Linked DNA regions of Homo sapiens. The protein of the gene in region 2 binds, or shares a complex with, the protein of the main gene of each other region. Each region holds a gene or a part of one and is shown on either strand. Other genes may lie near its edges.

Evidence for each region. Proteins that work in one complex are often made in the same cells at the same time.
Region 1: TUBG2 (region 2) and NME7 share a complex: the UniProt entries of both Homo sapiens proteins name them as parts of the gamma-tubulin ring complex.

What each region holds. Positions count from the first base shown.
Region 1 is NC_000001.11:169,322,767-169,329,797, forward strand, and holds part of NME7 (nucleoside diphosphate kinase homolog 7), read right to left. Parts: intron 1,735-7,031; coding exon 1,627-1,734; intron 518-1,626; coding exon 351-517; intron 1-350. UniProt on the Homo sapiens protein: Possesses an intrinsic kinase activity. Displays 3'-5' exonuclease activity with a preference for single-stranded DNA. Does not seem to have nucleoside diphosphate kinase activity.
Region 2 is NC_000017.11:42,662,284-42,667,537, forward strand, and holds the end of TUBG2 (tubulin gamma-2 chain), read left to right. Parts: intron 1-689; coding exon 690-769; intron 770-1,093; coding exon 1,094-1,220; intron 1,221-3,192; coding exon 3,193-3,279; intron 3,280-3,394; coding exon 3,395-3,544; intron 3,545-3,803; coding exon 3,804-3,956; intron 3,957-4,039; coding exon 4,040-4,201; intron 4,202-4,319; coding exon 4,320-4,517; 3' UTR 4,518-4,723; downstream 4,724-5,254. UniProt on the Homo sapiens protein: Tubulin is the major constituent of microtubules, protein filaments consisting of alpha- and beta-tubulin heterodimers. Gamma-tubulin is a key component of the gamma-tubulin ring complex (gTuRC) which mediates microtubule nucleation.

The sequences.
Region 1 (7,031 bases), on a different chromosome or scaffold from region 2:
CAAAGATCATCATTTGAAAACAGGGAGAAAGTGGAAAAAGGAAAGAATAGATCATAGATTTTAAATTGTGATTCATTAATTCGTTCAGCTAATACAGACAAGGTGCTTGCAATGTGGATGGAGATGTGCTAAGTGCCACAGGAGACATAAACATGAATTAAGTCAGATGAGACATGCACAACTATGGTATTATCAATTTTTTTTTAAATTGAAAAAAAGAAAAAGAATGAAGACAACCATTTTCCAGGTCCTATCCATCCTCATATGGTTACATACTCCCAGTCTTGATTCAGATTGACTTTGAACCCAAAGTTAGAGCATGTAAAAAGATTATATAATTGTTTTCTTACTTTTCTTTCCTACTGCCCAGCTGGCGAGCTGTATATTGATCCCCATAGTCAATTAATACCAGTTGTCGAGAAAAGACATTCACTTTGTTGCCTATAAATAAATCTTCCAAGTGCAGGTTATCATATTTGGTCCGCTTTAAAAAGGTGCGATGATTCTTTACATCATGCTAGAACCAGACACAACAATATAACAAACAAACAAAAAAAGTTATGAATAAGGAAAGTTAATCTCATCATAAGGTAGAAATAATTCTTAATTCTGTCTTATCAAAGATAGGTTATATTCTGTTTCTTTTTTGTTACAAATATAAATCATAATTTTTAATAACTTCCATATTTCCTAATCCAATCTGGTAATAACATAAAAGCTTCTTATTACAAATTTAATACTCTTAAAAACCTGAATAGAAAGATTTGTTTATTACCAAATCATTTCAGCAAAGTAGTCCTTACAAAATGCTAAAGAAAGAGTCATACACCCAAATTTCTGCTTTCTTGTGTACACAAAATCCCAATACCAAAAAGATCTACTTGTTAAAATTGTGTTGCCAGTGAAAGAACACAAAGAAACAGAAGTCTCTTAGCTTGAGCCTCTTCAATTTGACTTTTTGTAGCAATAACAGCTTTCAATAATGAGGACGTATTTATGACCATAATAATCCTTATCTATAATCACTTGTTTATTTCTTATCCAAAACATGAATAATCCCATTTCAGTCTTTTTTTTTTTTTTTTTTTTTTTTTTGAGACAAGAGTCTCATGCAGTCGCCCAGGCAGGACAGGCAGGAGTGCAGTGGCGTGATCTCAGCTCACTGCCACCTCCACCTCCTGAGTTCAAGCTATTCTCCTGCCTCAGCCTCCCGAGTAGCTGGGATTACAGGCATGTGCCACCACACCCGGCTAATTTTTTGTATCTTTAGTAGAGATGGGTTTTCACCATGTTGGCCAGGCTAGTCTCGAACTCCTGACTTCAAGTAATCTGCCTGGGTCGGCCTCCCAAAGTGCTGGGATTACAGGCATGAGGCACCGCGCCCAGCCCCCACTTCAGTCTTCTAACAACAACAACAAAAAATTCCTATTTTTGACATTAAAAATAAAGGCACAAGTTAACTTCTTATATTGGAATTATAATGAATAAGTTTAAAAAGAATTTCCATATGTATATATACACACACACATACATATAAATGTGTTTTTAAAAAGCAATTATATAAAAGGCAATGGTTCCCATGTTCACCCCCTTTGCCAACATTCAAGCAAAGAAAGGCTTATTTACCATTTCAACAGATCCATCCCCTGGGTAAAATAAAAGCTCATAACGTCGAAGAAGTGAAGCATTTGGATCATACCACTCTGCAATGAAAACGAATCTTTCACTATGATTCTGCAAAGAAAGACAGAAGAATTTTAACACTAACATATAAAGAACAAGCACTCTTCTGTAAGTCACACAAAATGAAATTACCAATATGCAAGAAACAAAATTACTTCTACCTATTATATTGAATGTTTCTGCTTTTCAACAAAGTATCAGTTATCAACACACCCTCAGCAATATTTCCTTTCAATTTCTCACTAAATACCCTTAGATATCTCAAAGATGACTTATGGATTGCTTTTTACTTTACAGCCATCTAATCATCCTGAGTAAATTAACGTTTTCTGAGAACATGAGCTCCTGATTTTACTATTGTAACAATTCAGTCCTTCTGAAAGCAAGTTTACATACAGACTATCAATAAACTAATATAAGAATAAATTTCTGAGGAGAGCTCTCAATTATATGAAGTTTTGACTTCCCTAAATTTGAGAATCTAGTAGTATCAGAATATTACCATTAAAATTATAGCAAACATTTTTTTTTCCTTAGTAATTTCATATGATAGTATCTTTTTATAGAAATAGAGAATGTGTTAGTCTAGGACCTCTGAAAATGAATGTGAAGACAAGATTGAACATACAAGAATTTCATTAAGGAAAATTCCCGTAATATAAAATGATGAGGGAGCCAAGGAAGACTAGAAAAGCCGATAAAAACAATAGAAGTTTGACACAGAGTGGTGGAGAGATGCAAGGAAGGTTAAGTGGAATCATCCCACATTGCTACACCCTCTAAGAAAGGTTCTGTAAGCCCATCAGGAAGTGCTAGAGCCAGGTGACTCCCAAGGACAGGGAGGGGCCAGCTTTAGTATCCCTGCTCCTCTCAATCAGTGGCTGGGAGCAGCCTTTGGGAAGCAAGTGCTCAGCACAAAAGCAGCAGTGGATTTCAGAGAACAGCAGCTGGGACCCTTGGTCACTTAGGTTGCCTGTAGTTGGAGGTCTGTGAAGTACACTCTTAGGGCTACCACAGAGAGCAAAAAATGAAAAAAATAAGTCAAAGATGGGTCCTTTTCCCTTGACTATTGAGCAGGACTTCCCATCATATATGTTAGTAAAAATACCCTCGCCCCAAAGATCTTCATTATAATAAGCAAATAAAAGCATAGGGAAGAAGGGAATCTAGGAGTTTTATTGCTAATTCTGGATTTGCCATCTGATGCTCTGGTTAGGGAAAATTTGGGGGTTCTTTTTAAGTTAATAATTGACTTATAAATTCTAATGGTAGAAGTTGTGTGTCTAATGATGTTTATAATATATCCATAAACTATAACGTAGATGACACTTTTATTTTTAAGACACTTTTATTTTTCCCACAATCATCCAAAGACATATTTAAACCATGCTGATTACTCAAGAGAAAATAAATGTAAAATAAGAGACATACTATGACATTTGTAAAAGCCTTTCATCATATATATTTTTCATATTGATTATAACAATACAGCTTTTTTGAGTTTAGGTTTCACTGTGCATTCTAGTATTGTACTCACCTACAAATAAAAATTTAAATATTAGTAGATTATTAAAATTTTTACTATCCATAATAAAATATTTATTTAAATACATAATTGAAATGTTGCCTTCACTAAAATAAATATAAAATAGAAGAAATGACACATCTAACTAAAGCAAATGAAAAATCCACGAAACCTGGTACTTCCATTTATCCATGTAGCCTATCCACCAAACCTGCCAACCACACTCTTTAATTCTGAATTGGGCAGCAGAATTTTGCACTATACTCTATCCAGAAAAGAGTTTTAATACAAAGAAAATAAACTGAGGAACTGTTGCTTCTGGCTATGACAAAGTAGCTCACAGCAAACCAATGCTACTTCTAAGAACAACTAGAAAAGTAGGATATCAAAGATTTGGAGAGCTTTTAAGGCAGCCAGGATCTGAGGATCCAAGATCCAGAAAGACAGGAAGCCCATTGAAGTGAAACCAACATTCATTGCGTTGTCTTTACTCGTAAGACATGTGCTGAGTCTCAAGTCAAGCAGACAAGTGACTGAGAAGCCTAAGAAGCTGGTAGAGGGAGCCCACCAAGGGACAGAGAAACAGGTACAAAAGTGAGCTGAAACCTGTGCTTGTTCAGTAGAGCTTTTGGAAACGAACTCCCAAGCTAGTGCTGTTTCCTCTGTGGGAAAAGGTTTATTACTCCAAGTACAAATTATATTCAAACTTGATTTAAACTTAACTTTCTGGTTTACCTTTACAGTAAAAACTGTGTTTACTTCCTAGAGTTAAAAGATGTACCTGGAGATATAACAGTGGTACATCTGGACTTGGGATAAAACATCACAGTGAGGTTGGCCTTTCAACTACCTGCCTGACACACATGCACATACACACACCATCCAGACCAAAGCCACCCTTAAAATTTAAAGAAAATTTACTTTTCAGCTTTGTTGAGCCAAATCTAGAAAAAAGGAGGAACTTGGTTTCCTTCCTCAAATGCTATTAAAGCTATATATCATTTTGTTTTAACTCTTCACTTTATGGATAAAGAAACTGAACTCCAGATAATATAAATGACTAGCATAAGGTCACAGAGCTGGTTAATAACTGAGCCAAAACTGGAAACTACATTTCCTATGACTCAGATATTTCCATATCACTAGCCTTCCAGGGCCAACTCAAGAGAGAGAAACTAACACTTTAGTAGCACATAGATACACCTTGAGTTGTCTGTCACAGATGCTCTGATGAGAATGCCACAACCTAATGATTACACAGACAATCATTAGCTCCTTCTTCCCTGAAGATTCCAACTTCTATCAAAAGTACTTTATGAGGAACATTTAAAGATTACACTGCATCAAAAAGAGACTTTCTTAAAGAAGCCAAATCATTTTTCCTCTTTTGAACATTTTAAATATAAGTTATACATAATAAAAGAGTTGATCCCTCACACATAATCACACTTTGTTCCAGAAATCTTAAAGTCTTAAAGGAAAATGTGTATTATTATACCAGAAGTCTTGAAGTGACTTGAACTGGACAATGTGGTATTATTATACCCAGAAGCCTTAGTATCTTAAAGTCTTAAGGTCTCTGTCTATACAGAGAGAACTTTCCTAGAGCACCAGTCTTACTCGATGGTAAGTAACGTAAACAATTTTTACACTGCAACATGCATATATGTGTATATAAATATATGTTATTGAGTGGAATGTAAAATTCATATAAGTTTTATAACAAAAAATAGGTGATTTTATGGAAATATTGACCAATATTGGAATTGCAAGTGAAATTATATTTGAAGATTAAACAAGTCTTTGGAGAAATAAATCACACCACCACCTCTCTCTGCTACTGTTTAAAGGAAGGTCCAGCTTTACAGTGGATCATATGAAATTAACAATCTTTTCCATACAGATATACTTTAAAAAATCCAAACTCTCAGTTCAAGAGTAAGTTTAAGCGTATGTTACCAAGCAAAATTGTACCTTGGCCTCATTTCAATAATACTGATCAGAAAGCTATTCCATTCCTGATGATACTATGATCATCAATCAACAAATACCAACTGGGCCTGGTACTACTAGCATGCTGAGTGCAACGAGCACACCAATCTGATAAGTCTGCTGCTGCTGGTGCTACTGCTGCTATCATTTGCTGGCAGCCTACAGCAAGAGACATGGCCCTGAAATGTGTTGCTTAAAGAGAAGATCCAGGAAACTATAAAGGGGTTTTTTGGAGGGGGGGATTATGGAGGAATATTTGTGAGAGTCCAAAAGACCTGGGCAAGACTTAATGTCTCTAACTCTCATTTTCCCCATTTGAAAAATGGAAACAGTACTTTCTTCATAAGGTAGTTTTGGGGATTAAATGACTTAGTTTACATGAAGCACTTAGGATTTCTGTTGCCTATGTCTCCCAAAGCGATGATGGTGGCTTATAGGTCCACCTGTGACTTTAGAACTGCATTGTACACACTCATCTCCCTCACTGATCTTTTTCTGACATACAAGAAGAGCAACTCTGGATTTGTGATGATGCAGCCTCAGCTGCAACTAACCCTAGGTAAATAGTTTTTTAAAGGTCTTTGCAGAAAAAAATCAGTATGAAGGAAAAAGGGATTTATGATGGACAAAAAAATGACTAAAATTATATTTATAAATGAAAATAAAAACTATTGAACATATAATACTAGGTAAATTTTTTTGTAAAGGATATATCATATTAATAAATCAGAGCCAAAGTACAATTCTTACCTTTTGGGGAGTTCAAACAGTTATAGATCTGTTTTTGTCAATAAAAATTTTAGTAACAATTTTCTTTTTAAATTTTATAACACTATCTGTTGCACATTCATCATTAGTTTTATAATGGACTTAGGGTGCCCCTTAAAGCAGATATAGCTTAGATCATAATACCCAAGACTTTTCAAATACATGTAAAGCCTTCCTAAGAAGGATGGGTACAAACATGCCAAGATTGCAGACTACAGTAAATACCTAACTTTTCAGTGCCCAGACACAGATGAACATCCACAAGTATCAAGATCATCCAGGAAAATATGAACTTACCAAATAAACCAAATAAGGCACAAGGGACCAATCCTGAAGAAACAGAGATATGTGACCTTTCAGACAGAGTATTCAAAATAGCTCTGCTATAGGTTTCAAAATCAACCCTGGCTAGGGGCCTGAAGCAAACCAGTTTAGTGCTAACAACAACAAAAAAAAAATCTGATCTAATTTTTTTCACTTTACTTTCTCTCCCACATATTCCTTATTTCTCACTCTACCGCTCCAAGCTTCAACTTCCTTGTTCCTAAATATTTTATGAAAAAGTTCAAAACACTTTTTCTTCTGGATAAGTAATATTTGTGTTTTCTTAATGTCATGCTGTGGTTTGAATTTTCAAATTTCATGAAAATTTGTGTTTCCTGAAAAAAAAAAAAAAAAAAACCTCTGCTAAGGAAACCCAAGAAATTCAAGATAACACAGAGAAGAAATTCAGAATTCCATCAAATAAATTTAACAATGAGATTGAAATAATTAAAAAGAATCAAGCAGAAATTCTGGAGCTGAAAAATGCAAAAAGCGTACTGAAGAAGGCATCAGAGTCCTTTAATGGCAGAATTGATCAAGCAGAAGAATTAGTGAGATTGAAGACAGGTTATTTGAAAATACACAGAGGAGACAAAAAAAGAATAAAAAACATGAAGCACACCTATAGGATCTAGGAAATAGGCTGGAAAGGGCAAATCTAAGTTATTGGTCTTAAAGAAGAAGTAGAGAAAGAGATAGGGGTAGAAAGTTTATTCAAAGGGCTAATAACAGAGACCTT
Region 2 (5,254 bases):
ACTGAGTGAGATCCTGTCTCTAAAACCAAAACAAATTTGAGGACAGGTGCGGTAGCTCATGCTTGTAATCCCAACACTTTGGCAGGCCGAGGCGGGCAGATCACTTGAGGTCAGGAGTTCAAGACCAGCCTGGCCAACATGGTGAAACCCCGTATCTACGAAAAATAAAAAAATTAGCCAGGCGTGGTGGTACATGCCCGTAGTCCCAGCTACTTGAGAGGCTGAGGCAGGAGAATGGCTCGAACCTAGGAGGTAGAGGTTGCAGTGAGCCAAGATCGGGCCATTGCACTACAGCTTGGGTGACAGAGCAAGACTCCGTCTCAAAAAAAAAAAAAATTGAAAATACCGTAAGTAGAAATGCATCAGGTTATAACCCAATAAGCCCATCATGAAGTTGAAAAATTGTAAATTGAACCATTGTAATTCAGATGCTTCTTGATTTAAGATGGGATTATGTCCTGATAAACCCATCATAAAGCCAAAACATCTTAAATTAAACCATCCTAAGTCAGGGACAGTCTGTAGGTAGTCCAGAATTGAAGTGAATTAGTGGATACCCAGCTGGCATCTACTGTAGAATTGACTGCTTACCTGATGTGTGTGGTAAGACCCCACCCATCTGGTATCAGAATTGTGTTGTGAGAGTGTGGCAGGAGAAACTGAGTCTGTTTATTCCTGTATACACACAGGGCTTCGTGCTGTGTCACTCCATCGCTGGGGGTACGGGTTCTGGCCTGGGCTCCTACCTCCTGGAGCGACTGAATGACAGGCAAGCCTGTGTTTGGGGAGAGGGCATTAACCCTGGTTCCCTGAGTAATGTCATTGCTTTTTTCTCTTGAGCTAGAAAGTCTGCCACTACCCCTTTTGAGTCATAGGGACAGACCCACCCAAGGACCATGTTGGAAGCTATTTTGGGGGGTGGGGGTTTACCTGTGGAGGGGAGGGGATCTACAGAGTTTGAAGCTTTCAGGCTTATCCTTTTTGGCTCTGAAGACTCAGTTCTGCCCTCACCCCTTTTGTACAAAATGGCACATATGGGCAGTGATGGAGGGGTCCTTCCGGTTCACTATGCCACCATCCTCTTTTCTCTCAGGTACCCCAAGAAGCTAGTGCAGACTTATTCAGTGTTTCCCTACCAGGACGAGATGAGCGACGTAGTGGTTCAGCCCTACAATTCACTCCTGACACTCAAGAGGCTGACGCAGAACGCAGATTGTGTGGTGAGCAAAGAAAGAGTTGAGGGGCTGGGTGTGGTGGCTCATGCCTGTAGTTCTAGCACTTTGGGAGGCCTAGGCAGATGGATTGCTTGAGCTCAGGAGTTCAATACTAGCCTGGGCAACATGTGAAACCCTATCTCCACAGAAAATACAAAAATTAGAGCTGGGTGCGGTGGTTCACACCTGTAATCCCAGCACTTTGGGAGGCTGAGACGGGCGGATCACCTATGGTTGGGAGTTCGAGACCAGCCTGACCAACATGAAGAAACCCCATCTCTACTAAAAAAACAAAATTAGCCAGGCGTGGTGGCGCATGCCTGTAGTCCCAGCTACTCGGGAGGCTGAGGCAGGAGAGTTGCTTGAACCTGGGAGGTGGAGGTTGCAAGGAGCTGAGATTGCAGCATTGCACTCCAGCCTGGGTGACAGAGCGAGACTCTGTCTCAAAAAAAAAAAAAAATTAGCCAGTCCTGGTAGCATGTGCCTGTAGTCCCAGCTACTTGGAGGCTGAGGCAGGAGAATCACTTGAACCCGGGAGGCAAAGGTTGCGGTGAGTCAAGATCACACCATTGCACTCCAGCCTGGGTGACAGAGCGAGACTCTGCCTCAAAAAATAACATAAAAAAAAATTAGCCGGGCATGGTGGCATGTGCCTGTAGTACTAGCTACATGGGAGGCTGAGGTGGGGGGATTGCTTGAGCTCAGGAAGTCGAGGCTGCAGTGAGCCATGATCACACCACTGCACTCCAGCTTGGGCAACGGAACAAGACCTTGTGTTTAAAAAAAAAAAAAAAAGGGTAGAGGACTTTGGTCTGTCTCCTCAGGCCAGTGAGTCTCATTCACCCCACCTTTCCTCAGCCCCTATACACACAGACAGAAGACCAACAAAGCCATACCTGTGGGCCAAATTAGGAAATAAGGTCCTGACTTCTAAGTTTCTTAGAATCCTTTTAGGCAGCAAAACTCTCAACAAAGTGAATATACCTTCCCCACACCACCACGTATCCCACCTTTGCCTACTTAATGCCCACTCATGCTTGTATTCTTAGCTCAAGGATAACTTTCTTAGCAAAACCCTTCCTGACTACTCAGTCAAGATCAGATTCCTATATGTGTATTTTAGGGAGTTAACTATAATTTTCTGTTTTATATTTAGTGTGCCTCCCTCCACGAGACTATAGGCCTAATGAAGGGAAAGACGGTGCCTGTTCCTCTCTGTGGTCTTCCCAGAGCCAGGCACAGTGTATGGCACATGTGGGTACTCACGTGTTTGTTTACTGCCCTGCGTAGTCCGAGAGTATCTCATGGTGCCCCAGAAACAGTACTTTTCTTTCTTTTTATTTTTTATTTATATTTATATATATATATATATATTATATATATTTATACTTTTTTATTTATATTTTTTACAGAGATGGCATCTTGCTGTGTTGCTCAGGCTGGTGTCCAACTCCTGGCCTCGAGTGGTCCTCCCACCTTGGCCTTGGGATTACAGGCCTGAGCCACCATGCCCAGCAGTACTTTTATTTTATTTTATTTATTTTATTTTATTATTTTATTTTATTTTTGAGACGGAGTCTTGCTCTGTCCCCCAGGCTGGAGTGCAGTGGCATGATCTTGGCTAACTGCAAACTCCGCCTCCCGGGTTCATGCCATTCTCCTGCCTCAGCCTCCGAATTAGCTGGGACTACAGGCGCCCGCCAACATGCCTGGCTAATTTTTTGTATTTTTAGTAGAGACGGGGTTTCACCGTGTTAGCCAAGATGGTCTCGATCTCCTGACCTTGTGATCCGCCCGTCTCGGCCTCCCAAAGTGCTGGGATTACAGACATGAGCCACCGCGCCCGGCCTCAGTACTTTTTTTTTTTAAACTAACAAACCTACTTCCTGGCTTTGGAGTTCAGCAGGGGCTAAGCCAATATCTTATTTCTATGCCCATTTTATCCTCAAGATGCTGTGATGCTCTTCTGTCCCCCCAGGTGGTGCTGGACAACACAGCCCTGAACCGGATTGCCACAGACCGCCTGCACATCCAGAACCCGTCCTTCTCCCAGATCAACCAGCTGGTGGGCCCCCACTCCCGGACTCCTTTGGACTGGAAGCCCTCCTTGCTGGAGGGTCATCTGGGGAAGGAAGGTCCCACCCAGGCCGAGCCCCATGACATGGCACGCCTGTCCCCAGGTGTCCACCATCATGTCGGCCAGCACCACCACCCTGCGCTACCCCGGCTACATGAACAATGACCTCATCGGCCTCATCGCCTCGCTCATTCCCACCCCACGGCTCCACTTCCTCATGACCGGCTACACCCCGCTCACTACAGACCAGTCAGTAAGAGCAGCCTTCAGTGTCCCAGGCCAGGCTGGCCCTGGGCCCAGCAGGCCCTGCCCCAGCCTTTCTCTCTTCCCCACTGCCCCAGGAGCTGCCCTTTGCAGGCCCCAAGGCACTGCGCTCAGGGACTGGCACAGAGCGGGCGACTTTCTTGCTGACTTTCTCTCCACCCTCCCTCTGCCTTTGGCTTCTGCCAAAGAGAAGCCAAAGGGACTGTGCCCTGAGCGCTGGCCGGGTCCCTGTCTCACTGTCCCATCAGGTGGCCAGCGTGAGGAAGACCACGGTCCTGGATGTCATGAGGCGGCTGCTGCAGCCCAAGAACGTGATGGTGTCCACAGGCCGAGACCGCCAGACCAACCACTGCTACATCGCCATCCTCAACATCATCCAGGGAGAGGTGGACCCCACCCAGGTAGGGGAGGCCCCTTCATCCCGCGCCCTGGACCTGCAGGGGTAGAGGAGAGGCCACCTCCACTGCTCCTATGCCCACCCCAGGTCCACAAGAGCCTGCAGAGGATCCGGGAACGGAAGTTGGCCAACTTCATCCCGTGGGGCCCCGCCAGCATCCAGGTGGCCCTGTCGAGGAAGTCTCCCTACCTGCCCTCGGCCCACCGGGTCAGCGGGCTCATGATGGCCAACCACACCAGCATCTCCTCGGTGAGTCTAGGTTTCTATTCTTCTTAGAAGAGTCTGTTCCACTGGCCACCTTCATCATCTTCCCCAAGTTCACTCCTAACCCCCTGGCTCGCATTTTGGAGATTTTCATCTCTTTCAGCTCTTTGAAAGTTCCTGCCAGCAGTTTGACAAGCTGCGGAAGCGGGATGCCTTCCTCGAGCAGTTCCGTAAGGAGGACATGTTCAAGGACAACTTTGATGAGATGGACAGGTCTAGGGAGGTTGTTCAGGAGCTCATTGATGAGTACCATGCGGCCACCCAGCCAGACTACATTTCCTGGGGCACCCAGGAGCAGTGATTTCCCTCCCCACTACTCCTTCTCCTTCTAGATGGTAACCACAGCCTCGACCATGCCTGCTCCCTCTGACCCAGCTTCACCTCATGGACAACCCTTCTTGGTTCATCTCCAGCCCGTGAGCTGGTCCTGCTTCCTCCCTTCCATGCCCTAACTTTTAATATGCTTGTTCAGCTCTAATAAAGTAATAAAGCTTGGTTGTCAGTATAGCCAGGGCTTGATCTGTGAATACGGGGGGGTGGTGAAGGGGTCCAGTTTCTAGGCATCTGACAGTAGGGTGGCCTTCACCTCCTCCAACGTCTTATCACTTAGTCCAAATCTTAGTGTGTTCACTGTTTCCATTGGCATCCCTCACCTTGAACTAGGCTGTTTAGTATTACTAGAGTCAGCCCTTGTCTCAAGATTACAGAGCTTTACTGAGGTTTGCTGTCTCCTCAGCGCCTAAGCTTTGCCCCAGTGAGGGTCAATGTTGCCCCAACCTCTTCCACTCAGGGCAGAGGAGGTGGGGTCTACTGAAGGAGGGCACACTACATTCTGAGCAGGCCAGGAGAGCCAAGGTTCCAGATTCCCAGTGCCCAGGGCCATGAGAGTTCCAGGAACTCAATCCAGTTCAACCCAACCTGATAAGTAGAAACAGAATTCAAGAGTAGGGCTGAGCACATCCTGAGTTACTTTTCTGTGCCAGAGAAATTCGTGGGTTTGTTATCTGCCCCAAGCTTCTCTCCATTCTAGGCCCAAAG